4 linked regions of the Homo sapiens genome follow. Each later gene encodes a partner of the first gene's protein in a complex. Each region holds a gene or a part of one and is shown on either strand. Other genes may lie near its edges. A codon is read from its position in the direction of its gene.

The links.
Region 2: GINS1 (region 1) and MCM3 share a complex: the UniProt entries of both Homo sapiens proteins name them as parts of the CMG helicase complex.
Region 3: the proteins of GINS1 (region 1) and GINS4 are in contact, whole or in part, in a crystal structure (PDB 2E9X), measured with the Homo sapiens proteins. Residues at the interface, in NP_066545.3 of Homo sapiens: Phe24 (codon at 2,793), Leu29, Leu33, Met36, Tyr40, Leu69, Leu70, Arg73, Thr76, Val77, Leu80, Tyr81, Leu84, Arg88, Trp92, Glu109, Glu110, Trp113, Asn116, Tyr117, Ser120, Leu121, Tyr124, Ser127, Leu128, Gly129, Gly130, Asp131, Leu134, Ile136; in NP_115712.1 of Homo sapiens: Met55, Glu59, Glu83, Arg84, Arg86, Tyr87, Leu89, Ser90, Leu93, Arg94, Leu97, Glu101, Phe104, Glu125, Glu126, Phe129, Glu132, Phe133, Asn136, Thr137, Tyr140, Leu141, Val144, Ala145, Leu146, His148, Met149, Pro150, Pro151, Asn152.
Region 4: the proteins of GINS1 (region 1) and CDC45 are in contact, whole or in part, in a cryo-EM structure (PDB 6XTY), measured with the Homo sapiens proteins. Residues at the interface, in NP_066545.3 of Homo sapiens: Leu146, Tyr147, Glu149, Arg151, Glu158, Thr165, Ser166, Val167, Leu168, Lys170, Lys171, Asn172, Ser173, Gln174, His175, Phe176, Leu177, Pro178, Leu195; in NP_003495.1 of Homo sapiens: Arg18, Gln37, Phe40, Gln41, His44, Val45, Gln46, Tyr47, Thr48, Leu49, Val50, Pro51, Glu64, His65, Gln68, Phe69, Thr394, Asp395, Ile398, Leu401, Asp402.

Annotation. Positions count from the first base shown.
Region 1 is NC_000020.11:25,403,044-25,410,682, reverse strand, and holds the start of GINS1 (DNA replication complex GINS protein PSF1), read right to left. Parts: upstream 3,011-7,639; 5' UTR 2,863-3,010; coding exon 2,788-2,862; intron 2,613-2,787; exon of another isoform or gene 2,388-2,612; intron 1-2,387. UniProt on the Homo sapiens protein: Required for correct functioning of the GINS complex, a complex that plays an essential role in the initiation of DNA replication, and progression of DNA replication forks.
Region 2 is NC_000006.12:52,281,733-52,289,708, reverse strand, and holds the start of MCM3 (DNA replication licensing factor MCM3), read left to right. Parts: upstream 1-4,966; 5' UTR 4,967-5,034; coding exon 5,035-5,112; intron 5,113-6,302; coding exon 6,303-6,415; intron 6,416-6,847; coding exon 6,848-7,056; intron 7,057-7,533; coding exon 7,534-7,664; intron 7,665-7,976. UniProt on the Homo sapiens protein: Acts as a component of the MCM2-7 complex (MCM complex) which is the replicative helicase essential for 'once per cell cycle' DNA replication initiation and elongation in eukaryotic cells.
Region 3 is NC_000008.11:41,524,439-41,532,265, reverse strand, and holds the start of GINS4 (DNA replication complex GINS protein SLD5), read right to left. Parts: upstream 3,006-7,827; 5' UTR 2,870-3,005; intron 2,083-2,869; 5' UTR 2,064-2,082; coding exon 1,968-2,063; intron 1-1,967. UniProt on the Homo sapiens protein: Required for correct functioning of the GINS complex, a complex that plays an essential role in the initiation of DNA replication, and progression of DNA replication forks.
Region 4 is NC_000022.11:19,510,905-19,517,921, reverse strand, and holds part of CDC45 (cell division control protein 45 homolog), read right to left. Parts: intron 3,174-7,017; coding exon 3,035-3,173; intron 2,958-3,034; coding exon 2,874-2,957; intron 1,396-2,873; coding exon 1,277-1,395; intron 1,109-1,276; coding exon of another isoform or gene 1,106-1,108; coding exon 1,029-1,105; intron 1-1,028. UniProt on the Homo sapiens protein: Required for initiation of chromosomal DNA replication. Core component of CDC45-MCM-GINS (CMG) helicase, the molecular machine that unwinds template DNA during replication, and around which the replisome is built.

The sequences.
Region 1 (7,639 bases):
AGCTGAGGCAGGAGAATTGCTTAACCCAGAAGGCGGAGGTTGCAGTGAGCCGAGATCACACCATTGCACTCCAGCCTGGGCCACAGGAGCGAAACTCCCATCTCAAAACAATAAAAAAAAGAGAAAAGCCTGTGTGGTCCTTGGGCCTCTCAGATCCACTGTCAGCCTTCCTCTGTGCCGCTGAGTCGGAGGCCAGCCTCTGCAGGCTGACTAAGTGTTCCAGGCTGCTGGATCACCTTGAGTATCAGGTGGGTTTGTCAGTGGAAGGCACTAGTGAGACAAAAGGTGCTCCACCAAATTAAGACCTACAAGACAGTGATTCTACAACTTTTTTTTTTTTTTGAGGCGGAGTCTCTCTCTGTCGCCCAGGCTGTAGTGCAGTGACCCGATCTTGGCTCACTGCAACCTCCGCCTCCCAGATTCAAGCCATTCTCCTGCCTCAGCCTTCCGAGTAGCTGGGACTACAGGCACATCCCACCACGCCTGGCTAATTTTTTGTATTTTTAGTAGATACGGGGTTTCACCATGTTAGCCAGGATGGTCTCAATCTCAGGACCCTGTAATCCGCCCGCCTCAGCCTCCCAAAGTGGGGGGATTACAGGCGTGAGCCACCACTCCTGGCCTGATTCTACAACTTCTAAGACCAGCCCCTAGCCCCACAAAGTGATAACCCAACACTTAACTTAAAATTTGAGTAAAACAGAGAGCTAAACTAAGTGTCAGAGTCAGGTCCAAAATCCAGCTTGGCCGCACCTGTTTGCACAGTCTCTCTGTTCTCTAGGCCTGTGTCCTGATATGTACAATGACCTCTAAAGTTCCTAGTTCTCAGGCCACATTTTAGCATTTACACACTTCTGCATTCAAGCATCTCTACTGAGCTGCAGACTGCTGCCTAACTTTTTAAATGAGGTAACTGCTCTGAAGTTGAAAAAACAATTGACTAGAAACTGGAAAACCTGTGTTCAAGTTGAAGCTCTACCTCCAATATGCTGTAAATTCAGACGAGTTCCTTAACTTGACCCATAATTTGTGTCAGCTCAGTTTCTTCATTTGTAAGACAATCTAATTGTCTGGCTAGGTGCTCTTTAGTGTTCAAAACAAAACTCATTACCTTTCCCAACACACTCTATCTCCTGAACTCTGATGTTGTTTACCCAGTTTCCTAAGGATCCTCCAAGATCCCAATTCCTCCCTCTTATTCATTATGGACCCCATCTCTGCCCCTGCTCTAATAGCTACAAGTCATGTTTGCTTCATGTCTCTAAAACCCAAACACTGATCTCAGTGCCACTGACCTGACACAGTTCAGACCACACACCTCTCACCTGCTCTATCAGCCACCCAGTAGCCATCTCCCTGTCCCATTCTTTCCTCTCTTCAATCCATTCCCCATATTGCTGCCGCAGTTACCTTCAAAACACAAAAATTACCCTATCACTTCCTTGTCTAAAATCCTCTACCAGCTCCCAGCATGCCTTATAAGTGAACAACAAATTCATGTAGGCTGTGAGCCACCTTCCTAGACTCCCCACAGGCCCTATTGGTCACCCTCTCCAGTGTGACCACGTGACTTTGTGCTGCAGCATCCTTTGGCTGGGATGCCTCGCTTCCTTCTCAGATCAGTAACCTCATCCTTGAGGATGGAAAGGCTCATATATCACCTCTTCTACCCCAGCTCATACTGGTGTTTCTCCTTCGTGCTCCTTGCTATACCTCCTTAGTATCACTTAGCGTGGTGAATTCTATTATCTGTTTTTGTGCCCATCTTCCAGCAGAATGTGTCCTGACATCCACATAATGCCTGCTCTATGACGTAAGTGAAATATACAATTTAGAGTGCAGGCTCTGGAGCCAGAGTGCCAGGGTTCAAATCCTAGCTTTCTTGCTGTGTCACCTTAGGCAATATACTTAAATCTCCCCAATCCTATGCATATATAGCTGAAAAAAGTAGAAAACAATAGTTTAAACATCAAAAAGTTATTTTTGTTTTGTTTGGGACAGGGTCTCCCTGTCACTCAGGCTGGAATGCAGTGGCAGGATCAAGCGATCCTCCCGCCTCAGCCTCCCAAAGTGCTGGGATTACAGGCAGGAGCCATGGTACCGGGCCCTCAAAGGGTTATTAGAAAGACAAAAGATAATGTACATGAAGTGCTTAGCACTCTCCCTGGGGTAGCAGTGATAGAAAAATACAAATAATCATAATATTAATAGTAACAGCAGCAGCAGGAGAAAAGTAATATTAATAGCTAACACTGACTCAGCCCTTACTGTATGTGAGGCATATGCAGAGACCCTTACACATGCCACTCATTTTGCGTCCACTACATCATGCGTTGGGTACTATTATTGTCACCATCCCCATTTTTGCGTATGAGAAAACTGAGAGCACAGAAAGCTTGAGTAACTGCCCCAAAGTCACACTACAGAACCAGAATCTCAGCCAGGTTCCAGAGGCCTAGCTTTTACTGACCACGATTAGATGCCTGAGTGAGCAAGAAATGCTAAATTATCAGGCAACCTGTAAATATTTTAAGGGACCGGAACAAATCTGTCCAAGGAAAACTGCTAAAATGCAAAATTTGCTCAGATGAGGAAATTCACCAAATCGCTGGGTAGCGTAAGCATGAATGCTTTCTCTTTCCTCCTGAATTTTGTTTTGCTGCTTCCCAAGTTTTCCGGAGCTCGGAGGGAACAAGGTGCGAAAGTGAACCCTGACGGGGAGCCGCCCCGCCCCAGAGCCCAGGGCCCAACGCCGGCATGCCCCGTCCAAGTCTACCCGCCCCTCACGTTGAAGGCAGGCAGTTGCCCTTCGGGCGCGCGATGCAGCTCGCGGATCAGTTCCATGGCTTTTTCGCAGAACATGGCGGACGCTTCCCACTCCCGCGGCCTTGCCAACCACCAGCTCTCACGCCAAAATGGTATCTGGGCTCTCGGCGCCTCACTCCTTTCGTTCTAGTCCTACAGCGCCAGGCTCTCGCCTCGGCCTCCGCTCCGCGCTTTGGCGCCGAACAAAGCTAGCCAATAGGAACGCGCCTACGGCGCCCGAAAAGGGACATCCACCGCTCAGCCGCATTCCAAGAGGGGCGGAGTGGGAGGGGTCTTTCCAAGGTGAGGTCCCCGCCCCGGAGATGGCAGAACCCCTCGGCTGAGCAGAGACGGCTTTTCCAGTTCTCAGGCAGTGGGCCGGGGGACTCTACGGGCAGCAGAGCTGGAAATAAATGCACGCCCCGCAGCTTCCTTGTCATTTTCCTTTTGATTCATTCATTCTCGTTTAGGTTCAAGAAAAGAGCACTTTGAGGTTAAGAGGAAAGGCCCAAAAACTTGGTGTGCATTGGTAGGACGCAAGGGTTTCAGTTTTGCAGTGCGGGTTTTCTGTTTGATATTAAAATGAAACTCTCTTTTATTGGGTACCTAGTGCTGGTAGGGACTGCAGTGTGTATTTCATTCCCACAATTATCTCTGAAGTGTTTTAAGACCCGGGATTAATAAGGAAACAGAAGTTAGGTAACTTGCCCAAGGTCACACAGCTCCAGAGTGATTAGACTGTTATTTAGGCTTTCCATTTCCAACACCACAGTACCACCCTTTGATTTTAAAATAGTCTTTTAAAAATATTTGTAATATCTGCCCTAGATTAATACGAATTCACTAGGAATTTTCTTGGCTAGATGGTTATGGAATATTTCTTAAGCATATGGAAGATGGGAATCACTGCTAAAGAATTGTTTTATTAGGCAATTTTTCAAAAAGCAATGTTAATTTCTAACAAGCAATCTTGGATTTTTTTTTTTTTGAGATGGAGTCTCGCTCTGTCGCCCAGGCTGGAGTGCAGTGGCGCGAACTCGGCTCACTGTAAGCTCCGCCTCCCGGGTTCACGCCATTCTCCTGCCTCAGCCTCCCGAGTAGCTGGGACTACAGGCGCCCGCCACCACGCCCAGCTAATTTTTTGAATTTTTTAAGTATAGACGGGGTTTCACCGTGTTAGCCAGGACGGTCTCAATTTCCTGACCTCGTGATCCGCCCACCTCGGCCTCCCAAAGTGCTGGGATTACAGGCATGAGCCACCGCAACCGGCGCAATCTTGGATTAATTCTAGCTAACCCTAGAAACTATGTTGATCTTTTGCAAATATACAGTAGATATGTCATCTAAGGAATGGGCATGGGAATGGCCTACTCAGGCTTATGTTGAATAATGACATTGCCTTTTTTTTTTGGAGACAGGGTCTTAACTCCCGTTACCCAGGTGGAGTGCAGTGGCGCCATCTCAGCTCACTGCAGCCTCCACTTCCCGGGCTGAGGTAATTTTCCCCCCTCAGCCCTCTGAGTAGCTGGGACTACAGGCTCAGGCCACCACACCTGGCTATTTTGTATTTTAAGTAGAGACAGGGTTTCACCATGTTGGCCAGTCTGGTCGACAACTCTTGAGCTCAAGGGATCCGTCCGCCTGGGCCTCCCAAAGTGCTGGAATTACAGCGTGAGCCACCGCACCCAGCAAACATTGCCTTTTTGAAACCGCCTTTGAAAAAATTATAATAGAGAAAATTATTACAGTGAAAGAGATCTGACCTAACTGGCTCCATCTTGCTTCTAACCGCCAAGCCATCCTTGTTCATTCCTGGGCTTAGGGCGAATTAACTTGGGGAGAAACTTAGTTTATAGTTTAATTTTGAAACAAATACTTAGCCCTTTACCAAAGCGAAACCCTTTTTGTCTGGGGACTAGATTGCCTTTGCAGGAGTAACAGAGTAGCCACAAGACTAGAAATTTACGAGTCTCGCAGCGGGAGGCTACAAGATTCTAAAACCTCCCCAAGTGCTCCTAGGGATAGCAGCACTATTATAAAACCTAAGACCAGTGCTTGAGATATTTTGTAGACCCTGCACTTGATGGGATCAGCTGGCACCACCCAGATCGATAAACTGGCTCATCTGGTCTTGTGGTCCCCACCCAAGAACTGACTCAGCCCAAGAGGACAGCTTTGACTCTCTATGATTTTATCTCTCATCCAACCAATCAGCACCCCTCACTTTGTGACCCCCTACCCACTAAATTATCCTTTAAAATCCCTATCTTGGAGTTTTCTAGGAGACTGATTTGAGCGATAATAAAACTCCAGTCTCCTGTACAGCTGGGTCTGCGTGAATTAAACTCTTTCTCAGCCAGGCCCAGTGGCTCACGCCTGTAATCCCAGCACACTGGGAGACTGAGGCGGGTGGATCACCTGAGGTCAGGAGTTCGAGACCAGTCTGGCCAACATGGTGAAACCCCATCTATACTAAAAATGCAAAAATTAGCCTGTCCGGGCATGGTGGCTCACACCTGTAATCCCAGCACTTTGGGAGGCCAAGGTGGATGACCTGAGGTCAGAAGTTCAAAACCAGCCTGGCCAACACAGCGAAACCCCATCTCTACTAAAAATACAAAAAAATTAGCTGAACATGGTGGCACACGCCTGTAATCCCAGCTACTCAGGAGGCTGAGGAAGGAGAATTGCTTGAACCCAGGAGGTGGAGGTTGCAGTGGGCCGAGATCTCACCACTGCACTCCAGCCTGGGTGACAGAGTGAGACTCTGTCTCAAAAAAAAAAAAAAAAAAATTAGCTGGGCCTGGTGGCACATGCCTGTAATCCCAGCTACTTGGGAGGCTGAGGCAGGAGAATCACTTGAACACTGGAGGCGGAGGTTGCAATGAGCTGAGATTGTGCCATTGAGCTCCAGCCTGAGCGACAGAGCAAGACTCTGTCTCAAAAAACAAACAAACAAACAAACAAACAAAAAACCAAAAAACTCTTTCTCTATTGCAACTCCCCTGTCTTGATAAATCAGCTCTGTCTGGGCAGTGGACAAGGAGAATCCCTTGGGCAATTATATTTTCATCTCTACAGTAAGGAATAGTTTATCTAGGTGTTTTTCCCAAATACACAACTCTAGACTGGACTATGCTGCAGGACTGAATCAAAGACCAGCATGCACTACCCTCCTCAGCCATAGGCCTTTTTAATTTCAGCCCAGAGGCAAAGTTCATTAATGACCCCAAGACTCACTTCCTTAACAGTAGAATGAGAACAGTGGAACCACCTCTAAGGAGTTAAGATGATTCAGTCATACCTTCTGCAAATATTTATGAAATGCCTAGTGTTGAAGTTAAAACCAAACTCTAAAATATTTAAAGAGATTTATTCTGAGCCAATGAGTGACCATGGCCCAGGAACAGCCTCAAGAGGTCCTGAGAAAGCGTGCCTGAGGCAGTGCAGTTACAGGTTACAGGTTGGTTTTATGTATTTTAGGGAGACAGGAATTATAGGTAAAATCATAAATCAACACATGGAAGGTGTACTTTTGTTCAGCCTAAAAAGGTGGGATATCTTGAAGCAGGGAGCTTACAGATTTTCTGATTAGCAATTGGTTGAGTCAAGTTTTGTCTAAAGACTGTCAATAGAAGGAAATTATTGAGTTAAGGGGGAGGTTGTGGAGACCAAGTTTCTTGTTATGTGGATGAAGCCTCATAGGCAGCAGCCTTCTGAAAGAATTGATGGTAAATGTCTCTTTTTGGATCTTAAAAGGTGTGTTAAACTCTTGTTTAACCTCTCCTAGATTCAGGAAAGACCTGGCTGCATTAACGGAGATTCTTAACAGATGCAAATTCCCCACACAAAAGATGGCTTTCCAGGGCCATTTCAAAATATTTCAAAGAAATATATTTTGGGGTAAAACATCTTGATTTCCTTCAGAGTCTGCTATCTGTCATGTGATGCTACATCAGTCAGGTTGGAGTTTGGACCTTATTGCCACAAAGAGTGTGTTTGTGAGTCTTAGGATCTTTATTTTAATGTTAATGCTGGCCAGTTGCACCTATACTCCAAAAGGGAGGGGGTACAACAAGGTGCATCCCATCTTGCTTCTTGTCATAGCCGATAATTCCATTTTTGTTTTTTTTCAGGTTTCCCTGGGGTCCCCTTGGCCCAGAAGGGGTCCATCCAGTCAGCAGGGGATGGAGGGTTTGGGATTTTATTTTTGGTTTACACTAGTATTAGCCTGGCATTGACCTAGATACTGAAAATAAAGCAGTAAACAAAGTCCTTTCTACAGAGTCTACATTCCAGTGTGGGAAAACGCAATACACAGATACACTGATAAGAAATATATTGGTGAAAAAGCACTAAGAATAACCCAAAGAAGATGAATAGAGTGAAGGTGAAAGAGTCAGGGTTTTGAGTTCAAGTGTTCAGAGAAGGCACAGACCTGAACAGGGAGAAAATAACCCAAGTGGTTATGGGCCTTAGGGAAGGCAGGAAATTCCAGGCAGAGGAATCAAGCTGCAAAGGCCCCAGGAAGGTCGGCTGAGGATGAGCAAAGAGGCAGTGATGCTGGAGCAGGTTGATGATAGGAGAGGCCAGCAGTCAGGTCAGATGTTGGGAGCTGAAAAGGCCAAAGGGATTGTGACCAACTCAGCATTCCACTGGAGGCTATATTATCAAACAGCAAACTGTTTATCAAGAATGCAGGATGTGAGCAAACTCACACTGTGCCTGCCACCAAAAGGTTGGCTGAGGGCCGCGCTCCCTGGTGCCGGGCTCCTTGAAGTTATCTACGGAGAAATCTAGTGCCTATTGTTCAAAGGATGCAGTCTCGCAAGCC
Region 2 (7,976 bases), on another chromosome or scaffold:
CCCCATCTCTACAAAAAATTGAATTAGCCGGGCATGGTGGCACATGCCTGTGGTCCCAGCTACTTGGGAGCCTGAGGCATTGCTTGAGCCTGGGATGTTGAGGCTGCAGTGAGCTGTGACTGAGCAACTGCACTCCAACCTGGGTGATAGAGCAAGATCCTGTCAAAAAAAAAAAAAAAAAAAAAAAAAAGAAAAAGAAAAAAGAAAAAATTCTCAACACTTTTTAATATTGATTACATATTGAAATGGCAATATTTTGGATATGTTAGGTTAAATATATTACTAAATTAATTTCAACTGTTTCTTTTTTACTTTTTAAAATGTGGCTACTATAAAATTTAGAATTATGTATGTGTCTTGTATATTTCTATCCAGCAGCACTGATCTAAAAGTCTTTGTTCCAGGACAGAATTAGGTATACAGATTACAGATGCTTAACTAATATTTGATTGTTTGGTATGGCTAAAGCTCTTCATCATTTTTAAAAACATTTATTTCTTTTTTCCCCTACCATGCCAATGTACATCATTTTATTACATTAAGGGACTGTATCTTTAAAAATGCATGCTTACAACAAATCTAGACAGATTTACAGAATGGAGTTATTATCAGAGCATTTCATATGCTATATTCATATTCACTCAATTTGTGTTTAATCATTTCCTTCTGCAAATCTGTGGTTCTAAGCATTGAAGCAAAGCTCTTCAGAGCATCAGTAAAGACTTGTACAATTAAGAATGGGGGCTCAGCCGGGTGCAGTGGCTCACACCTGTAATTCCAGCACTTTGAGAGGCCGAGGTGGGTGGATCATGAGGTCAGGAGTTCAAGCCTGACCAACATGGTGAAACCCAGTCTCTGCTAAAAATACAAAAATTAGCTGGGCATGGTGGCGCCTGCCTGTAATCCCAGCTACTCGGGAGGCTGAGGCAGGAGAATTGCTTGAACCCGAGAGGTAGAGGTGGCAGTGAGCCGAGATTGCACACTGCACTCCAGTCTGGGCGACAGAGCGAGACTTCGTCAAAAAAAAAAAAAAAAGAATGGGGGCTGGGCATGGTGGCTCACGCCAAGGTGGTAGGATCACTTGAGGCCAGGAGTTTAAGACCATTCTGGGCAGCATAGTGAACCTATCTCTCAGAAAGAAAAAGAATGGGGATGACTTCTTACGGACTAAGAAATCAGATTACTGAAATTAACCTTGGCAAATACCAATGAATCACTAATTGTTGGCAAGCCAACTGTGTTGTTATATTTAATGGGAAAATCATGATCACTGATGTTCTCTGTCTGGCTCCTGGATTTTCCGGCTCTTTTTAGCATATCTAACCGGAAGGACTCCAGGAAGCAACAGAAGAGTGCAAAAGGGAGACAAGAAAGGTGATCAGACTCGTTTATTTATTTATTTTTTGAGACAGAGTTTCACTTTTGTCACCCAGGCTGGAGTGCAATGGCGTGATCTTGGCTTATTGCAACCTCCGCCTCCTGGGTTCAAGCGATTATCCTGCCTCAGTCTTCCAAGTAGCTGGGATTATAGGTGCCGGCCACCATGCCTAGCTAATTTTTTTGTATTTTTGGTAGAGACGGGGTTTCACTATGTTGGCCAGGCTGGTCTTGAACTCCTGACCTCAGGTGATCCACTTGCCTCGGCCTCACAAATTGCTAGGATTACTGGTGTGAGCCACTGTGCCGGCTGACCAGACTCTTTTAAAAGAGTTTTATAAAGGAGTCCATTTAGTATTCCATAATGTTCTTTGAGCATGGAGTAAATGCATCTGATGGCTTCCAACACTGTCGGAATCCGAGCCAAACAACACCCTGCCTATGTTATTTTTTTTAGCCAATTGGACTTCCAGCAGAAAAAGGTCCCACTCAAGGAAGTGTCTGGGTTGGTTGTATTGTAAGTTTTTTGGTGGAAGTGGGAAGGGGGTTTGAATTTGGTTGTCTGAATTGTTTCAGAATGCACTACAGTGCTTCCTCCCCTTCTCCTATCCCTTGACTCCTCTCCAACTACCATTCACCACCACTACCAATGGTTAACATTTATTTAATGCTTACTACATACCAGGCACTTTTTTCAGTAGTTTACATCTGTTATGACTTCACTGGATACTTAAACATTTGAGTTAGATACTACTAACCTAATTTGAAAGGTGAAGAAACTGAGGCACAGAGTGGTTAAGTAAGTTGCCTAGTCGTGCAGGTAATATACAGAGCAGCCAGAAAGAGTAACCAAATCTGCCTGTCTTGGTGCTTGAAACTCTAGATGCTACAGCATCTGAAGATTCTGACTTCACACTGCAGAACTGTGAGGTTAGGGCAAGCCTGTGCCTACAGATTATTCCTTGAGCTGCTGTGACACCTGGAGGCATAGATTTGCTCACCTCCAAGCTTTGGTGGCCTTTGAGTAAATGTCAAAGGACTGCTAATGAATTATGGCACTTTCCTGAGTGCCTAAACAAGTTATTAATTACAGGGTATTATTTGAAATGTTTTGCAACATATAATGTTCATTAGTTTGAACAAAGGTATATATAATTTCTTGTAATAATATTTATTATGGATTTGTATTGTGTCTTTGGGTATTTTTTGGACCCTGAGGACATAGAAAAATGGCAGTATTACATCTATTTTGCAATCTCTTTGCAATCTTGTTTTCTTTCCATTCTCTTCCTGTATACTCTGCTCTCCAGGGAGCCCCCTAGCGTTTAGGCAGCCTTGGAGATGGGCTTGAGTCCATTAAAGTCTAGGGTGGAAAGAAAATTGAAATGGAGGAAAGCAGGAATGTGACCCAAGTATGGAAACTGTAGATACACTACTTTATTAGATTATATGTGCTTTTTAATTTTGAATCAGGATAGAGGAGGACTACGGGCTAAGCTCAGCTGGACTTTTTATGAGATATGTACAAATGCCCCTAATTTTTCTGTAGCAACAACCTGATTGATTTTGGGCAGTTTGCAGGTGTCGGGGATAACAAAGGAAATACATTTCCTCTGCTTAAAGATTTCATGCCCTAATGAAAGAAGGGAGAAACACCAATTAAATAGCGGTGTGTCCTTCACAGCTGAAGATGATTATATTGGGACAAATCAAGTCTTTATCAAAGACCATGGCATGATTAATTCATTAAATAGAATTGTCTTTACATAGTTTCCAAATTTGCCATTAGCTCATGGAATGTTAGAGTAAGACAGATTATCAGAGATATTCTAATTCAGTTTCTTCATCTTATACTGTATATAAGGAAACAAGCCCAGAAAAAAGTGTGAGAATCAAAGATGTGGTTTTCAGATTTCCACTCTTTTGGACTTTCTACTACAAATGACTCGACTTCTTTGCTAGTTTGAACTAAGCTTCCCGGTTCTTTTAGTGTTAATTTCAAATTGTTTCCAGAGCAGAGGATATCTCAGTACTCTGTCCAATAAGTTCATAAAATAAGAGTTATGAGTAAAAAGTCTTAATAAATCAGTAATTACCTCTTGCTATATAACGGCAAACAGTATCTTTATTCTAGAATTTTCTTTTTTTTTTGCCCGTTAATAAACATAAAAGCAAGCAGTCAAATGACAGCCTTTTTGCTTTGGCTAAGGATCGATTTATCTGCCCACTAGGATGGCACAAAACATACAGTAACTATAAACTGAATAATAACTAGAAATACATATACCCACACAAATAGATGGCCTATATATTTTGTTTAGGCAGATTATTCTTAGAATATTTATCAGTACATAGTGAGTCCTGAAGACTTTAAAACATAAGCTAATAGTTGGCTGAAATTTCAGATAAAGAATTATCAAATGTCTGATGTTGGGCAATCCAGTATTTCAGCTTCTTGTTCAGTAAAATTAAAAACACATGCTGGGGCAATGGGCTTGCTCTTTATTGTGCAGAGTGGTTACATGGGTGTAAGCACAGGTAAAAATTCACTGAGCTGTACACTTAAGATTTGTGCATTTTACTGTATATACATTATATCTCAAAATAAAACTAGAAATATAAGAAAAAGCCAACCACGACGGACTGAAAACAAACATACAAATTTGGACGTGCGATGATCTTTTAGTCATTATGGTTTCAGATTTGCTGTTAGTTACTGATTGATATTTAATCAAAGTGACGTGAAACACTTTTTCCCCTCTTGAGCTGATCGTTCAGTAAGCTAAGTTACTTAAAAGGATCTTGTGATCTTTTTATAAGACCAGAAAGCCTTTAATTTACCTGTTATTAAGTAAGATGGAGTAGTAACGGTTTCCAAAATTTGTATAACACACGATGAAGTCTCTAGGGGGCAGGGTAAACACAGATTTTTTTTTTCACTTCATCCTTCTCTGCGGCGATGTCTTTATGGAGTTCGTCAGGCAACGGTATCAGATAGCAAATGGGTTTTTAACTAATCTTTCCCTAAGGTACTGTAGTTCTATATTCTATCCTATAGATTCTCAAAATCCACTTTTACACTAGGATGCCACTGGAGGGCAGTTCTGATTTGGATATATCTTAAAAATGATTTGCTTTTATGTTTTCATCTCCCTGCGTTATAAAGCACCATCCTCTGAATTTGGTCGTTGCATCGGGTCAAAAGTTCTGCAGCTTGAAAAACCCTGCAAAAACATCCGGAAAGGAGGGAGAACACTACAACTCCCAGAACGCAATGCTTTCCCTCTCGCCAGCCTGTCCCCTCCAGCTGCTCAATGACCAGCCTCTGTGAGCCTCCTCTCAGCCCTATTGGTCAGTTTGCTCGTCAGTGAGTGAGGCGGAGGGAGGGGAGGAACAGAGAATCCCGGATGGTACGTTTCCCGCCACCGCGGGGCGCGCAGCGGAAAACCCGAAGAAGAAGAAGCTTTTGATTGGACAGTCGCTAGTCCGACCTCAGAGAACTCAGCCAATCATAATGCTTATATGCTCCCAAGGTCCCCGCCTCTTCCTCGAGGTAACCTTTGGTGGCGGGAAGAGTTCGGAAGTTTTCGCGCCGGGGTGGAGTCATCCTGGGAACCTCCACGCGACTTTGGTGGAGGTAGTTCTTTGGCAGCGGGCATGGCGGGTACCGTGGTGCTGGACGATGTGGAGCTGCGGGAGGCTCAGAGAGATTACCTGGACTTCCTGGACGACGAGGTGAGGGAGGCGCCGGCGCGCGGGCTCTAGCGCTCGGAGCCCCTGCGGACGCGGCCCGGCCGGGAAGCCAGAGGCCCGCCAGACCTCCAGACCGTGTGCCGCAGCGGAGCCTGCCGGGCCCGAGCCTCCAGCCCCAATCTTGTAACTTCTCAACGCCGGACTCGCTAGTTTGTGTTCGATAAGTGAACTCTTAGGAAGCCAGCTTTCTCTTAAGTACAAGCGATGGTCCGGGCGCGCAAAAGGCGACAGGTTCCCATTAAGTGCAAGCAGATTGGCAAAGCCCACCTCGGCCTTTTGCATTTCACTGCTCTCTCTTGATTTGAGGAGACTGTGGGGGAGGGGCTGCCCTAGGGCTATAGTGACCAGCCGCGTTGCAGAGTGCTCAGATTTTAGGGACTGACGTTTTACCTGGAGGAAAAGACTCCATAATTCGGCTGCATTCTTTTTCAATACCAACTAAGATGCAGATAAAAAGTGTTTTGTGTGCAGGCCAAGGGGATTTTATGTGCAACCCAAGACTTAAAGCCATAGAATGTTGAAAAAACCATCTTGAAGGGTTGATGATGTGACCAAATAGCTGAGATTCTCTATTCCTTTAGGTCGGGGTATGAGAACCCTTTCCGTATTATAGAGATGATTGGAAAAAATATTACTTTTTACATAATTCTTAAATGAAAAGCCATTTTAATGTGACTATTAAGAGTCTGTTTTATTTACATTTTTATTGTATATATTTGAAGTGCACATGTTTTGATATACATGGTGAAATGATTACTACAGTGAAACAACATATCCATCTATTCACGTTGTTACCTTTAACATTCACATTGCTAGGTTTAACTTAACATTTTAACAAAGTTTGCACTTACTGTCCATTTAGACTTCTCATGAGCTCATTTTAATTCTCCACTAAAGACAGAAATTACAGCATGCAGAAAAGTTGTCCATGATGATGGGAATAACAGCATGGACCTTGAGGAAGTCATTATAATTCTTATAGTCCCCTCTTAGGGTGTTATTTCGAATCTAAAAACAGTGAATGAAAGGGAGAAATTGATGAGCACATACTTACTGGGGATTCAGCTCTGCTGCAGAGATTGACTTAGCTATCTGGCTATGAGAACTACTTCTGTTTAGAAACATTGTTTTTAAATTTGTGGCTATGGTGATATGTGGTGGCTGTTTTGCAGGAAGACCAGGGAATTTATCAGAGCAAAGTTCGGGAGCTGATCAGTGACAACCAATACCGGCTGATTGTCAATGTGAATGACCTGCGCAGGAAAAACGAGAAGAGGGCTAACCGGTGAGAGGCAAGGGGATATACTGGCTGTCAGTGAGAATGGCTCCCTTCCCTCTTGGCCAGATTGGAACAGCCTCTCAGGAGAGGACTTGTATGAAACAGGATTGATCTACAAGCCCTCGTAGCTCACCTGCACCTATTTTTTTTTTTTTTTTTTTCAAAAAGTGGGTGGTTGGCATTTTCCTCCCAAATGCCCCTCCTTCCAATGTTTAGCTGAATATCATTTTTATATCTTTGATAAGTTGAGGTGAAGTTGGTCCTTAGTTCTGGTATTTTACTGAGTCTTATAGGATGGTGTTTTACTGAGACTTATAGGAGAAAGCAGAAGCTGGATTTTCTCATTGTTTTTAATGATCTAAGAATGTCTGCTGTTTTGAGGATCCATTTTTTTGAGTTCTGCCCAGTCTAATTTTTCTTTCTCTTGCTTATGTACAGGCTTCTGAACAATGCCTTTGAGGAGCTGGTTGCCTTCCAGCGGGCCTTAAAGGATTTTGTGGCCTCCATTGATGCTACCTATGCCAAGCAGTATGAGGAGTTCTACGTAGGACTGGAAGGCAGCTTTGGCTCCAAGCACGTCTCCCCGCGGACTCTTACCTCCTGCTTCCTCAGCTGTGTGGTCTGTGTGGAGGGCATTGTCACTAAATGTAAGTGGGTTAAAGGGGGCCGCTTAGGAAATGAATAGACAGGGAGATGGGGAAAGCAGGAGAGGCAAAGTAGATCTGGGTAGCTTGTGGCTTCAAAGAGGTGGAGCATTGGAATTACGTGGTAAAACTTGGAGGGCTCAGTGTGTACAATGATTGGGGGACCTTGAGTAATCACATGTATTAGTAGAATGATGAATTCTGCTGAGAGCTGGAGGAGTCTTGGTTCCTGGCAATCTCTAATTCCAACCTCTAACTCCACCTATTTATTAGTTGGGATTGGTGGTACTTAAAATTTTACATGGATATGGTGGTGGTCTATATATAAATAAAAAAGTGAATAAAAGGTAATATTGAAATATCGTAACCTAGTCAAAAAAACACAGTATTTGGAGTCATTATAGGCTTGCATATGTTTGGGTTCCACCTGTATCATCGTCTAGTTGGGTGAGTTTATATATGCACATTTTCCATCCCTAGGTTCTCTAGTTCGTCCCAAAGTCGTCCGCAGTGTCCACTACTGTCCTGCTACTAAGAAGACCATAGAGCGACGTTATTCTGATCTCACCACCCTGGTGGCCTTTCCCTCCAGCTCTGTCTATCCTACCAAGGTAAGGGGGATAAATCAGTTGAGCTGTCTTGGAGGTTGGAATCAAAGATACCTGTTTTAAGGCAAGGAATTGTGTAATATCTGAAGTCTTTTTTCTGTAAAGGGTGAAAAATAAGGATTAATCCAAAGGAAAGATTGATTGCAGGCCAGAGTTTAATATGAAAAGCCCACAATTCTTATTTATTTATTTATTTATTTTTAAAGATGAGGTTCTCCTATGTTGCCTAAGTTGGAGTGCAGTGGGTATTTGCAGGTGCAGTCATGGTGCACTAAATTTGCAAACTCCGGGGCTCAAGTGATCCTCCCAAGTAGT
Region 3 (7,827 bases), on another chromosome or scaffold:
GTTTTCTTCTTCTCTGAGGTATCAGTCTGTACTGGGCAGTATGAAAGAGCTGTTTATGTACTGTGGATAATCATCTTGTGTCAGCTACATATTAGTATTTTGCAAATATCTTCTCCCAGCCTGGTGGCCTGTCTTTTCACTCTAATCCAGAAGTACAAACAGGCTGGGCACAGAGGCTCATGCCTGTAATCCCAGCACTTTGGGAGGCTAAGGCAGGCAGATCACAAGGTCAGGAGTTCAAGACCAGCCTGGCCAACACAGCGAAACCCAATATGGTGAAACCCCATCTCTACTAAAAATACAAAAAGTAGCCAGGCGTGGTGGTGCACACCTGTAGGCCCAGCTACTCAGGAGGCTGATGCAGGAGAATCGCTTGAACCTGGGAGGTGGAGGCTGCAAGTGAACCAAGATCACACCACTGCACTCCAGGAATGTATCCCTTTTTTCCTTTATGCTATGTGCCTTTTGATTTTTGTTTAATGAACCCTTTCCTAACGAACCAGGAATTCTTAATGCTGTTCCACAAACTAGGTCTGTGGGTGGATTTCAGGGGATCTCTGATCCCCTGGAAGTCATATGCAAAATTCTGCATGGGTGCATGTGTGCGTTATTGTGGGATGAAAGACCACAGTTTCTACCAGTTTCTCAAAAAGGTCTGTGATATAAAAACAGATTAAGAATCACTGCTAAATAGTAAGGATTATCATGTAAGGTATAATTTAAAAATCATTTTAGTTCCGTTTTGTCATTCGTGATATCATGTATGGCAGGGAAGAATGAAGAATACTAAAGTAGCAAACATGAGAGAGCTCTGGAAAGGGGCAGTTAGAGCAAGAGGATAAGGATACTTACTATGAACAGCTCACATCTAGTGAGTGCTTATCATGTGTCAGATAGCATGCTGAGTGCTTTACACAATTACCACATTTAATCAAAAACTCCAGGACATAGACACTATTATCATCTCAATTTTATTTTATTATTTTTTTGAGACGGAGTTTCACTCTTGTTGCCCAGGCTGGAGTGCAATGGTGGGTAGGATCTTGGCTCACCACAACCTCTGCCTCCCAGGTTCAGGTGATCCTCCGGCCTTAGCCTCCCGAGTAGCTGGGATTACAGGCATGCGCCACCACATCCGGCTAATTTTTGTTTTTTAGTAGAGACGGGATTTTACCATGTTGGTAAGGCTGGTCTCGAACTCCTGGACCTCAGGTGATCCGCCCACCTCAGCCTCCCAAAGTGCTGGCATTACAGGCTTGAGCCACCGTGCCCGGCCCTATTGTCTCAATTTTATAGGCAAGCAACGGCTTGAGACAAACTCCCTAACTTGCTCAAGATCACATAACAGAGGAGTGTCACAGACAGATTTAAATCCAGATAGTCTGAACTCCTGTTACCAGAGCATCATGAGATATAAGTGTAAAGAACACAGTTACTGGCACATGGGAAATATGCAGTAAGTCATAGCTATTACAACTTAAAGGAGAAATATTTCAGAAAGGATTTTAGATAAGCAGTGGACATATGGAGAGCAGACGACTCAAGAAAAAACATGTGAGAAAAAGGAAAAATATGACCAGTTTTCCCTTACAGGCATTTCAGCATTTTCTTGCTAAACAGGCATTCTCCAGGGAAACAGCAGATGTTCAAGGGACTAAGGTAAAGAAGTTCAGGGACCTCTACAGTCCCTGAAAATATCACGTGGATCCTTGCTCTGTGAACTGTTCACTGAATGTGCCCAAAGCTGTCCCTTACTGACCCCACTTGGGGATGCTGTGTTTGATATGATGAGGTCTCTAACAGAGGATGTCCTTCTTGCTTCCCGTTTCCATGTAGATGGTAAGATCCAGTCCCTGTTCTAAAGTAAGCCCCAAATTCCGTTTCCTCATCTTGTGATCCCTGATATTCACAGTTGAACTAAATAAAAAGGCTGACTGGAGCAAAGGGATTCGATCTGGGATGCTTACCTGCTCCAATCTTTCAATGAGCTCTGCAGGAGTTAGGACCACTTCCTCACTACCCCCATCAGAGTCCTGTCCCAGGAAATCCACTTCTTCGGTCATCTTCTCTGAAACCAGGAACCTAATGAGAGGGAAAGAACCAATACTCTGCAATGCGTTTTCTAATTATCTGCAAGAACAGACATCTATCTGGAGAAAGGAAAGGTTTATTGAGGTTTCCTGGGGTTGTAGAGGCCCTTTAGCAAGTGGTGAGAGAACGCAGGGACTCTAGTTTTCCAGTGTCTGCCTCTTCCTCCAAGGCTTAGGTCAGGTATCCGTTTCTCAAACAAGCCTCCCCCTTACTTCTGTCCACCAAGAGCTGAGCACCCATCACACCATACAATCACTATTCATTTCTTTGACTTCCCAGTAGAGGTCTTGTTCCTCAGGGACGGGGTTCGTTTTAGTTCAAATACGAATCGCGCCTCTGCTCAGTGCCTGGCACTAAGCACTGGGGACGCAATGACGTGGGAAGCCCCTGCGCTCAGCACAGCGCTTGACTCCTAGCAAGCACTTAACATTATTAGGAGCTGGCCGGGCTCACGCCTGTAATCCCAGCACTTTGGGAAGCCGAGGCAGGAAGATACCTTGAGCCCAGGAGTTCGAGACCAGCCTGGGCAACATAGGGAGATCCTGTCTCTATAAAAACAAAAATTGTTAGGAAGATTAATCAATGCTAATTTCCCAGAGCCACAAGGGCCGGCGACATTAGACCAGTCGGCGATCCCAAAGGCCTAAGGAGGTGGATGGCGGGGACAAAGAAAGTCCCTGGGGTCGCAAGGAAACTGCGAACATCCCCCTCCCCTCCTCCCTCTCAGTGCCACCCACACAGGCCTGCCCTAGCCACAGAGGTCCCATTCGACGCTCACTCGGGGACCTGGGAGACAGCGAGGCACTCCACAGCAGCCGGCGGTAAGGACGGGGCGTTCGTGGGGACGCAGTCGGGGCACCAGGAAGCGGGAAGACAGAGGAACAAACTGCTCAAGGACTTGCCGGGACCAACTCAACCCTGCAACTTCTCAGCTCCCGCGCTACTCTCGCAAAGTTTCCGCCCAGGCACGACGTCATCGCGCAAGGGCGACGCTGACCAATCAAGGCCCGGGGGGAAGAGCGGGGCGGTCTCCTTGGGCCCGCCCACCCGGCGGGCGGGGACTGTCTTCGCGGCGGCCTGCAGTCCCAGCAACCCAAGGACTTGAGGCGGCGGGAGGCTGGTCCGGGTTGGCCCCGCCCACCTGGGGGCCGGCCGCTCCGCTGTGCGGTCCGGGTTGCACTACCCAAGAGCGTCGGGAGGGGGCGCCCGCCACCGCGGCCAAGGGGAGCGGCGGTGTCCGCCCCGGGGGGTCCCACCCAGAAGTATGCTGTTGAAAGCAGGCCGCTGCAGCCTCCTGGGCCGTCTCCACCCACAGCTCTCGTGGCTCTTTGGGTTCCTCCGTCTTTGCGGGGTTTCACCTGTGGTCAGTGTGGTCATTGCCTTCAGAATCTCCAGTATATTCCTTTTCATCTTTCTTGAGACAGGGTCTCGTTCTGGTGCCCAGGCTGGAGTGCAGTGGCACCACCACAGCTCACTGCAACCTCCGCCTCCCGGGCTCCAGCGATCCTCCCACCTCAGCCTCCGGAGTAGCTGGGACCACAGGCCAGCGCCACCACGCCCAGTTATTTTTTAATTAAAAAAAAAAAAAAAAAGAACTGTGGCGGGGTTGGGGGTGGGGAGGTTCTCCCTATGATGGCCAGGCTGGTCTCGAACTCAAGGATCCAAGCAATCCTCCCACCTCGGCCTCACAAAGTGGGTACTGGTTCTTGAAGCCTGGGATCGGACGACCAGCAGAAGCATCGCCTGGGAATCCGTGAAAATGCAGGTTCTCAGGCCCCACCCTGGCCCACCGAATCAGAAACTGGGGGTATTTCACCAGACCCAGGCCCTCCCGGTGACCCTGACACAGCTGAGGTTTGAGAATCACTGCTTTGGGGCCGGGCGCGGTGGCTCACGCCTGTAATCCCAGCACTTTGGGAGGCCGAGGTGGGCGGATCACGAGGTCAGGAGATCGAGACCATCCTGGCTAACATGGTGAAACCCCGTCTCTACTAAAAATACAAAAAAATTAGCCGGGCGTGGTGGCGGGCGCCTGTAGTCCCAGCTACTCGGGAGGCTGAGGCGGGAGAATGGCGTGAACCCGGGAGGCGGAGCCTGCAGTGAGCCAAGATGGCGTCACTGCACTCCAGCCTGGGAGACAGAGCCAGACTCCATCTCAAAAAAAAGAAAAAAAAAGAAAAAAGAAAAGAGAATCACTGCTTTGGGGCAATGCTTTCAACTCACCTTCTGGAGGGGAAAAGCACAAAAACCCATGTCTGTATATGTATATATTTTTTCCATCTTTGTGTGATCCAGTTTTTCTTCTCTGAGTTGCTGATTCTTTTCTCTTTGCTGTCCTTTGTTTTCTGTGCAAAGCGTTGCTTCTGGCTTCCCTAAAAGTATCTCTTCTCCATCAATCTGAGGGCTCTTTGCAAAGCTGCCCTATGATGTCATATTGATTGACTAGTAAAATGATTGGCTAATATAGTATGATCGTACCTGCCTGATTACAATCCTGTTATGAAAATGACAATAGAATAAGCCGAGTGAGAGAGTAGGCATCTTTACAAAGCGCTGTGTAAGCTGGGGCATATCAGCACGGGATTCCCAAAAGGAAGGGACATTTGAGCTGTGTCTTATGAAATGAATTTTGTGAGTGGCAAATAGGTGGTTATTTCAAGGTCTGTTTCAACGGTTTGGTAATCCAGTGGTTTTTGGTTGTGGCAGAGTGTGTTTCCCAAACATAGCTGCTCTAATATGGATCTCACCCCACATACCCTTCTTACCATGTGACATTGACACTCCTCCATCAAGAGGTGGGGTCTATGTTCTCACCTTCTATTTATTTATTTAGAGACAGGGCCTCACTCTGTCGCGCAGCCTGGAGTGCAGTGGGGCGGTCACGGCTCATTGCACCCTTGACCTTCCTGGGCTCAGGTGATCCTCCCACTTCAGCCCCCATGAGTAGCTGGGACTACAGGTGTGTACCATGCCTGGCTAATTTTTTGTATTTTTGGTAGAGGTGGGGTTTCATCATGTTGCTCAGGCTGGTCTTGAACTCGGGCTCAAGTGATCTGCTCACCTCAGCCTCCCAAAGTGCTGGGATTACAGGTGTGAGCCACAGCGCCTGGCCCTGTTCTTGCCTTTTACATCAGGAAAGAGTTTTTTAACTGCTTTGACCAAGAGAATTTGGCAGAAGTGATGCTGCTTGGCTTCTGGGACTAAGTCATAAAAGGCAATGTGGCTTCCACTTGGCTCTTTTTTCTGGAGCCCCATCTCTTGAGAGCTGTGGGCTGACGTGGAAGAAGTCTGGCTAGCCTGCAGTCGATGTGCAAGAGAGTCGATATGAAGATGCCAGGCAGAGATGGGGAGCCTTACTGGAGGAACCCCAGAACCCCAGTTGTTCCATTCTCCAGATGTCTGGGTTGAATGAGCCTTCAGGTGATTCTAGTGCTGAGGCTTCAAACCGTCCCAGCTAAGATGAAGGGAGCAGAGATGAGCTTCTCTGCTGAGCCCTGCCCAAATCGCAGATTTGTGAGCAAAATAAGTATTGTTGTTGTTTTAGGCCCTAAGTTTTGGAGTGGTTTGTTATGTAGCATTAGCTGACTGGAACAGTGGTCTTTGAGCACAATCGCATTCTTCCATAATTCTCATTACCAAATAGCTTTTCAATGATGTTTATTAATATTCCTTAATTGTTACATATTTGAGTCCAAGCATAGATAACGTCTCTACACAAGTGCCGATTATGTAGTTTATTGATTTAAAAACTTCCCTTCTCTGGGTCCAACCACCTTCTCCAATCTCCCCCGCTCCTCCACTGGAGAGCTAGAGCCCAGCTTCTGCTTCCTTACTTAATAGAGGTGTGACCTTAAACGAGTCACTTTGGATTTCAGTTGCACCACCTTTTTTGCTGTTGTTGTTAGATGACGTTTCGCTGTTGTCCCTCAGGCTGAAGTCCAATGGTGCGATCTTGGTGCACTGCAACCTCTGCCTCCTGGGTTCAAGTGCTTCTCCTGCCTCAGCCTCCTGAGTAGCTGGGATTATAGGCATGTGCCACCGCGCTTGGCTAATTTTTGTATTTTTAGTAGAGACGGGGTTTCACCATGTTGGCCAGGCTGATCTTGAACTCTTGACCTCAAGTGATCTGCCCGCCTCGGCCTCCCAAAGTGCTAGGATTACAGGAGGGGGCCACCACACCTGGCCATCAGTCACACCACCTTTTTTTTTTTTTTTTTTTTTTTTTTTTTTTGTGAGATGGAGTCTCACTCTATCACCCAGGCTGAAGTGCAATGGTGTGATCGCAGCTCACTGCAACCTCTGCCTTCCAGGTTCAAACGATTCTCCCACCTCAGCCTCCCGAGTAGCTGGGACTACAGGTGCACGCCATCGCGCCTGGCTAATTTTTGTATTTTAGTAGAGATGGGGTTTTGCTATGGTTGCCAGGCTAGTCTCGAACTCCTGACCTCAAGTGATCCACCTGTCTCAGCCTCCCAAATTGCTGGGATTACAGGAGTGATCCAACCGCGCCTGGCTAATCACACCACCTTTTACACAAAATTAATATGTGTCTGCCTGAAGACAGAGGGACAGACCAAAAAATTGAGGGACCCGTTTCACTTCTAAGATCTTTGATTACAACTAATATTCATTAGACAAAAACACTTTTAGAGGAAATGAGTTGGCAGAAAAATATTTCTGCTGTGTAAAGAAGGGTTATTAAAAGAAATGCCAAAGCAACACACAAACTTTTGGTGTTGATCGTTTGGCACTGTAAAGTTCAGGAAGGTGGGAGAAAAGAGGTCTTCAATTACATTATATAGAATGAAGAGAAAAATCAGGAACACCTGGTTGATGTGCACCCACTGTCAAGAAGTGTTTTAGAAATAATAAGATAGCCATATAAATGGAATGCAATTCATTAAAATGATCACAGATAAAAGGTGATTACATAGATTATTATATTAGGAGGATGAAGTTTGTGGATAGAATTTGCAGGCAAGCTTAGATGATTTAAATTGCAAGATGAACATACTAACATGAATTCAGACAAGTAAAACATGAAGTTACCTCGAAAGAGAAGGAAAAAGCTACTGCCCAAAGTGGAAGAGGAAGATACAGAAAATAGGATCCTATACAACTGAAGAAAGTGACAAGCCACAGCAATATTCAGATATTCTCAGTGAAGATGTTAATGGAAATTATAGACACAGCAAATAGAAACAGCCAAAATATTTGTGGACAGCCATACGTTATTATTATTATTACTATTTTTTGAGACAGAGTCTCACTCTGTCGCCCAGGCTAGAGTACAGTGGCGTGATCTCGGTTCACTGCCAGCTCCGCCTCCTGGGTTTACGTCATTCTCCTGCCTCAGCCTCCCGAGTAGCTGGGACTACAGGCGCCTGCCACCACGCCCGATAATTTTTTGTATTTTTAGTAGAGACGGGGTTTCACCATGTTAGCCAGGATGGTCTGGATCTCCTGACCTTGTGATCCGCTCGCCTCGGCCTCCCAAAGTGCTGGGATTACAGGCGTGAGCCACTGCACCTGGCCCAGTGGTACATTATTTTTATTTTTTGAGACAGAGTCTCGCTCTGTTGCCCAGGCTGGAGTGCAGTGGCATGATCTTGGTTCACTGCAACCTCTGCCTCCCAGGTTCAAGCGATTCTCTTGCCTTGGCCTCCAGAGTAGCTGAGATTACAGGCATGTGCCTCCATGCCCGGCTAATTTTTGTGTTTTTAGTAGAGATGGGGT
Region 4 (7,017 bases), on another chromosome or scaffold:
CTTTCTCAGAGGTGCAGGAAGTACTGAGGGTGTTATGAGCTGAACGGTCTCCCCCACATCTCTATGTTGAAGCCCTTACCCCCAGGACCTTAGAATGTGACTATGGTAATTAAGTTCAAATGTGGTTGTTAGGGTGGGCTCTAATCCAATCTGTCTGGTGTCCTTGGAAGATGAAACGGTTTGGACACAGACACCAAGGAGGTATGCAGAGGAAAGACCACGTGAGGACACAGTGAGAAGGTGGTCATCTGTGTGAGCCAAGGAGAGAGGCCTGAGGAGAAGCCAGCCCTGCCCCACCTTGACCTGGGCCTTCTCGCCTCTAGGACTGGGAGGAGACACGTGGTTGAAGCCACCCTGTCTGTGGCACTTTGTTATGGCAGCTTTAGCAAACTAACCCGGGGTGAAATATCAATACGTCTGTTTTACTTTAAAACCTGTCAACAATAATAAGAACGCCAACACAGCCGAATGTGAACCATGTTCCGTGCTGGTGCTGGGGAAGCAGTGGGCAGGCAGGCCTATCCATTCTGGGCTCATCTGACACACAGGTGGGGCCGGTGTCCCAGCCATCTCACAGGTAGCACCTATCACGACACACACCCCGGCCTGTGGAGAGGTGGCTGGCGCAGCAAGGGTTGGTGTCCTGGGTCATCACGGGCCCTGCTGTTCCCTCACCCCATGAAACAGAAACAACCCAACCCTGACAGGTGAGATCGGGGCACACGGGCCCTGGTGGCCAGTCCCCTAGGCTTGCTGGGAAAGTGATCCTTAGCACTGGCTGTAAGGCCGCTGTAAGGCCACAGCCAGGCCAGTCATTCCCTGGAAAACACTTTTTCCCTCTCAGGGGCCTGAGGTTCACCAGAGCTCCCTGAGCCACCAGGAGTAGCCTGTCCCAGGGCCAGATCTGGAAGGTCAAGAGGGCTGCTGGCCAGGCTCCTCCAGCCATGCCAACTTGCTTGGTTCCAGGGCCTGCAATAGCCTCAAAGGGTCAGGTGGGAAAGTGTGGCAGAGTGGCAGGAGACTCTCACCTGAGAGGTCAAAATGGTTGTGCAGCATCCGGGAGCTGGTGCTTTCCGCTGCCTTCTCAAACGCCCTCCCAAAAAAGCTGCTGACACACAAGACATGTCGGGGGCCAGGCGGCCTGCAATGGACCCTTCCCACCCCCCGCCCCAGGACAGACACTAGAGGCAAATACCACTCTACTCAGCAGGGCTAATAAGCTGATAACCCCAACACCCCCGACCCTCCAGTCCCAGGACGAGTGGAAGCTGCTCACTTCTTCCTGTCCGAGCTGTCGGTCTCTGGGGGGATGCCCACCACGGTCACTGTGCCATGCTCCATGCTCAGGGGGGCAGCCATCACCAGGGGCAGCAGTTTGCAGCGCCGGTTCTTTGTCTATGGAGTCGGAGAGCACCCTCCGTCAGGGTATGGTGGGCCCCAGCTCAACACTCAGAGCCCAGAGCCCAACAGCGCCCAGTCACTCCACTCCCCAAAGCCTCCAGGGACGCTGTCACCAGGAGACGCCTTGGTCCCCACCCAGCCACCCCAAGTTAGATGCCCAAGGCCAGTGTCTAACTCCCAGTCCAGGGAGCTCTCCAAACACCTGCCCTCCCGTACCCACAGCATGGTACTGTGGCTGTGATGCTGTGTCCCCGAGCCTCCTTGTCTACCAGCCTAGCCCCACTGCCCCTTGGCTGTTTGTTGCAAGGAGCCTGCCCTGCTATCCTCTCCCTCACCTCCTTCAGGTCCTGCAGCAGCTGCCACCTTCTCCAGGAGGCCCCAGCCCACCCCGCCTCATCCTGCTCCATCCCCTGGCAGCACATCCCCTCATCTTAACCGCAGCTGCCACTCCTCGTCCCCCCCGCCGGCACGCTCCTTCAGGATAAAGGTTTAGGGTTTCCTTCTCTGCTGTGCCTGCTGCACCCACACCCTACAGCCCAGGTGACCAGTATTCCTGGTGTGTCTAGGACTGAGGGGTGTCCCAGGATGTGCACCAGGATGGGCAGTCACTCCACAACAGGGCCGGGCAGGTGGTGGATGTTCAATACATGTCTGGTAAATGAATGGATCCTGTAAAGTGGGTATGTGTTCACCCATTTCACGGATGAGGAAACTGAGGATCAGGTCAGATCATCTACCTCACGTCACACAACTGGCAAATGAGGAGGCTCATCTTTGAACACAGCCTAGAGGACGTCAAGGCCCATGCTCTGTCCCTAGTTTATCTTTGACATTACCTGGTTGATAGAACACATGTCATCTGTCATCATTTTACTGGTTAGTTCAGCGGCAAAAGAAAAGTTCAACTTCCTGTTAGCACATTTTGTTTGAAATAGCCCCCGGCATAAACTCTCATCCTCGAAGCAGAGGAGGACTTCAATTATTGACATGTCACATCTGGGAGGAGCCCCATGTCGGCTAGGTGAGGACCCCTGCCCTAAAGCCAGCCAAGTTAGGAGTGTGTTCCACGCCAACGCAAAGAGGGGGTTAGGCCACACAGAAGACAAAGCCAGGCACAGGAAATCAGCTTAGTGGACAAGCTGTTGCTGGGAAGCCAGTCGGTGCTACAACCATCCCGCTTTCCCTGACCTGCAACAATAGGACACAAGCCCCAGCCCTGTTCACTCTGCAAGGGCCCCTCCCTACTTGTCTGAGTGACTTAGACAGCCAGTGATGAATCAGAGCTTGAGAGAACTGGAAGGTTCCTAGGGGTCAGCTGAGAAAAAGACAGCTCAGAAAAAGTAATGGATGTGCCTAGACCTTGCAGCTGGTCAACAGCCACAGGCACCCCAAGGCCAGCATCTAACTCCCCATCCAGGGAGCTCTCCAAGCACCTGCCCTCCTGTACCCACAGCACCCGCCTGGCCCCTCACCGAACACACAAAGGACTTGAGCAGGTGTTTGCTGAGCAGGCTTAGGGATGCCGGCCTAGAGAACAGCATGACATCTGGAGTGCCCTGCGGAGGCGAGACAGATGGTCAGACGAAGCCACTGGTGCTGTGACCAGGCGCCTGTGCTCTGTGGGAAGCCTGACCTCCATGAGAGAGCAGTACAGGAAAGGCCCCTGGGAGATGACGAGGTTGGTGCAAAGGCAGCTGGCAATGGTCTGCTGGGTGGCTCGCAGCTGCTTCTTGGCGAGTTCCAGGCCATGGTACAGCTTGTCCAGGTTACTCCTGTAACAGGGCAGACACATGGCTTTGGTGGTGCTTGTCAGGAACTCTTGGTAAAATACCAAAGTCACAAATAGTTTGCTTGGTTCCTGGTTCAGGAAGAGGTTTGGGGGTAAGAATTTATCTTCTTTCCCTCCTGAGTTGTCTTTCACATGAAAGGAAAGAATTTTTTAAAATGTATAAACCCACAGTAATGCAAATGAGAGGTGGAGCGGGTGCAAGTATCAGAAGACAGGAAACTAAAAGCCAACAAAGGGAAGATCCTGAAGGCCCAGGAGGACTCTGACACAGGGGAGGCTTGGGCAAGGGCTGGAGGTTGGACAAGGGATCCCCTCAAACCCAACAGATAGATTTTTACTCTTCCCCACAAAAAGGGAGGCTCCCCTCTGAGTATATGAAATGTACCATCTGTGAATAAGTAGAATCCTCAAGCAAAGCCTCTGGGCCCTACAGTGGGGAGTCCCAAAGTGTCACAGTTGGCTCCTGCCTGCTAAGGTGAAACGATGTCTTATGACCAGTGAGCTGTGCCCAGATACCCATGGCCCAGCCAAGGGTCCACAATCCCGTTCTTGAATATGAAAGACATCAGACCATTTGAGAAATGCCTATGGCCTAAAAAAATAACCCTGAAGAAACAGATAATTTGGAGAACTAAAGAAAGTTAAACTGAACTCTAATTAGTATCTTCAGAGAGATGTGTGCAACTCTTACATTCCTAAACCAAGAACAGGATGCTATGAAAAAGGAAGAGTTAAAAACTAGGAAATGTTGATGGAAATTAAAACAGTTGCAAAAGATAAAACATCCACTCCAAGTCTGGAGTCAAGAAAAACTTCCTCAACATAGATAACAAGACAAAGCTATGGAAAATGTAAGGCAAAAAAATAAGACAGAGCATCGTCATTCCAGGAAGCCTGAAAAGCAAGAATAAAAAACACGGATGTTTTCTGTGGGGGGAATAGTAAAGAAATAGTAAAATAAAGATATTGTCAGATATATAAGAACTCAGAAAGTTTATCTCACATGCGCCCTTTCTTTGAATGTTACTTAAGAACTGTGCTCTAATTTAATGAGGGAGTAAATGAAACAAAGATGAAGATCCCAAGAAACATTGGACTAAACTAAGAGGCACAGCCAAGATTTGGACATCCATGGGGACAGTGGAAAGCAGGTCTAGAGAGCTGTAGGTCCAGGCTGTGGTGGGAAGACAGAACCCCAGACTCTCCAGCAAAAAGGGGCTCACAGAAAAACAGCTGGAAGGAGTTTGGAGGAGAAAAAAATGGATGTGATAAAGGAGGCAATTAAAAACAGCAGGAAAAACAAAGAGCCGTGCCAGATAGTAATCTATTACTACACATGATTGTCTCTGGAATAGTTTATTAGCACAATAAAGTAAAACTATTTGTTTACTTTCAACTTTTAAAATCAACCTGTAACCAAAGATAAGACAATTTATATCTTTTTCTCTAACCCAAGATTGTTATCAGTCTTGAAAACGTAAAAGCACAAATTTCAGAAAGTACTGAGCAGCACTGAAGAGCAAAGTAAGGCTGTTTCTACACCTTGGACATTTGTCCCCTCAAAACCTCATGTTGAAATCTGATCCAAGATCTTCGAGGTGGGGTCTAGTGGGAAGTGTTGGGTCATGGGTGCAGACCCCTCATGAATAGATGAATGCTCTCCCTGGGGCTAGGGGGTGTAAGTGAGTTCTTACTCTATTAGTTCCCGTGACGGTTGTTAAAAAGAGCCTAGTACCTTCCTCCTCTCTCTTCCTTCCTCCATTGCCACATGGTCTCTGCACCCACCAGCTCCCCTTCTGCCATGAGTGGAAGCAGCCTGAGGCCCTCACCAGATGCAGATGCCCAATCTTGAGCATTCCAGCCATCAGAATTATGAGGCAAATAAACCTTTTCTCTTTATAAATTACTCAGCCTCAGGTATTCCTTTATAGCAACACAAAATGGACTAAGAGTGTTTTAAATATCCTTTTCTTACAAAGTAGGGAGACGAGATACTAGTGATGAAAGAAGACATAAATATGTTAAAGTTACAAAGAAGTTAAAAATAGTGGCAAAACTGTACCAACAGGAGGGAAGGTGGACAAGAGTGGGATAAATGCTCCTTTGTCATAGCAGGAAGTTGGTAGACAATGTCTAAAGCCTACCCATCAATGCTGGGATGATGGCAGCAACAGTGGTAAAATAGTTTTTGGATTTTCCCAAATTTCTAGATAAAAGTAGAGCAACTAGATTGCAAAACCAAAAACCTAGGACCCACATTTGCAACAAATTAAGAGAACAAGGGAACACTTCAAACCCCAAAGTGTAAGCAGGTAAAAAGAGACCATGAACAGCCAGACAGGTATACTATCTACATCAGTGCGAGAGAAAGCCAAGAGGTAGTGAGACCTAAGAAGACTTAAAACTCCAGGCAACTGGAGAGCAGCGGCCCAAACTGAGAGTTTTGCCCTATGCAAGAGCAGGTGAGTGCAGTGGGCCAAGGGAAAGTTTAAGGAGCCTCCCTGGAGTGCAAGGAGTCCTGGTAATGAGCAAGGGGTCCTGTTAAACAGCAAGGGAGCCTGGTAAAGTATAAGGGGGCATGGTAAAGAGCAAGGGGCCTTGCTGAAGTGTAAGGAGACTATAGTAAAGAGTAAGGGGCCCAGCCTGACCAACATGTCTCTACAAAAAATACAAAAATTAGCCAGGTGCAGTGGCACATGCCTGTAGTCCCAGCTACCTGGGAGGCAGAGGTTGCAGTGAGTGGAAATCATGCCACTGCATGCCAGCTTAAGTGACAGAGTAAGACCCTGTCTCAAAAAAAAAAAAAAAAAAAACCTCCAGTGAATCATACTCCTAATGTAAGGGCTAAAACTATTAAAGTGTTAGTAGAAAAAATAATGTGAAATCTTCATGACCTTGGGTTAGGCAATGGTTTCTTAGATATGACACCAAAAGCACAAGAAACAAAAGAAAAAGTAGGTAACTTAAATGTCATCAAAATTAACAAATCTTATACTTCACAGGACACTGCCAAAGTGAAAAGTCAGCCTACAGAATGGGAGAAAATACTTGCAAATTACTTATCTGATAAGGGATTTGTATGTAGAATATATAAAAGTTTTAGGCTGGGCACGGTGGTTCATACCTATAATCCCAGTGCTTTGGGAGGCCAAGGCTGGAAGACTGCTTGAGCCCAGGAGTTTGAGACCAGCCTGAGCAACATGGTAAGATCTCATCTCTACTAAAAATTTAAAAATTAGCAGGTGTGGTAGCTCATGCCTGTAATCCCACCTATTCAGGAGGCTGAGGTGGGAGGATGGCTTGAGCCAAGGAGTTTGAGGCTGCAGTGAGCCATGACTGCACCACTGCACTCCAGCTTGAGCAACAGAGTGACACCCTGTCTCAAAAAAAAAAAAAAAAAAAGACAAAGGACTTGAATAGACAATTCTCCTAACAAGATACACAAATGACCAATAAGCACATGAGAAGATGCTCAACACTATTAGTCATCAGTAAAATGCAAATCAAAACCATAACGAGATACCACTTCATACTCACTAGGATGAATGTAATCCAAAAGATGGACAATAACAAGTGTCGGTGAGGATGTGAAGAAATTGAAACCCTCCCTCCTGGTGGGAATGTAAAATGGTGCAGCTGCTGTGGAAAAGTCTGGCAGTTCCTCAAAAATCTGGCAGTTCCTTGAAACCTAGTGTTACCATGTCACCCAGCATTTCCACATGTAGGTATATAACCAAAAGAAACAAAGACATGACTACACAAAAACTTGTACATGCAAGTTCACAGCAGCATTAGTCATAATTGTCAATAGGTGGAAACAAACCACA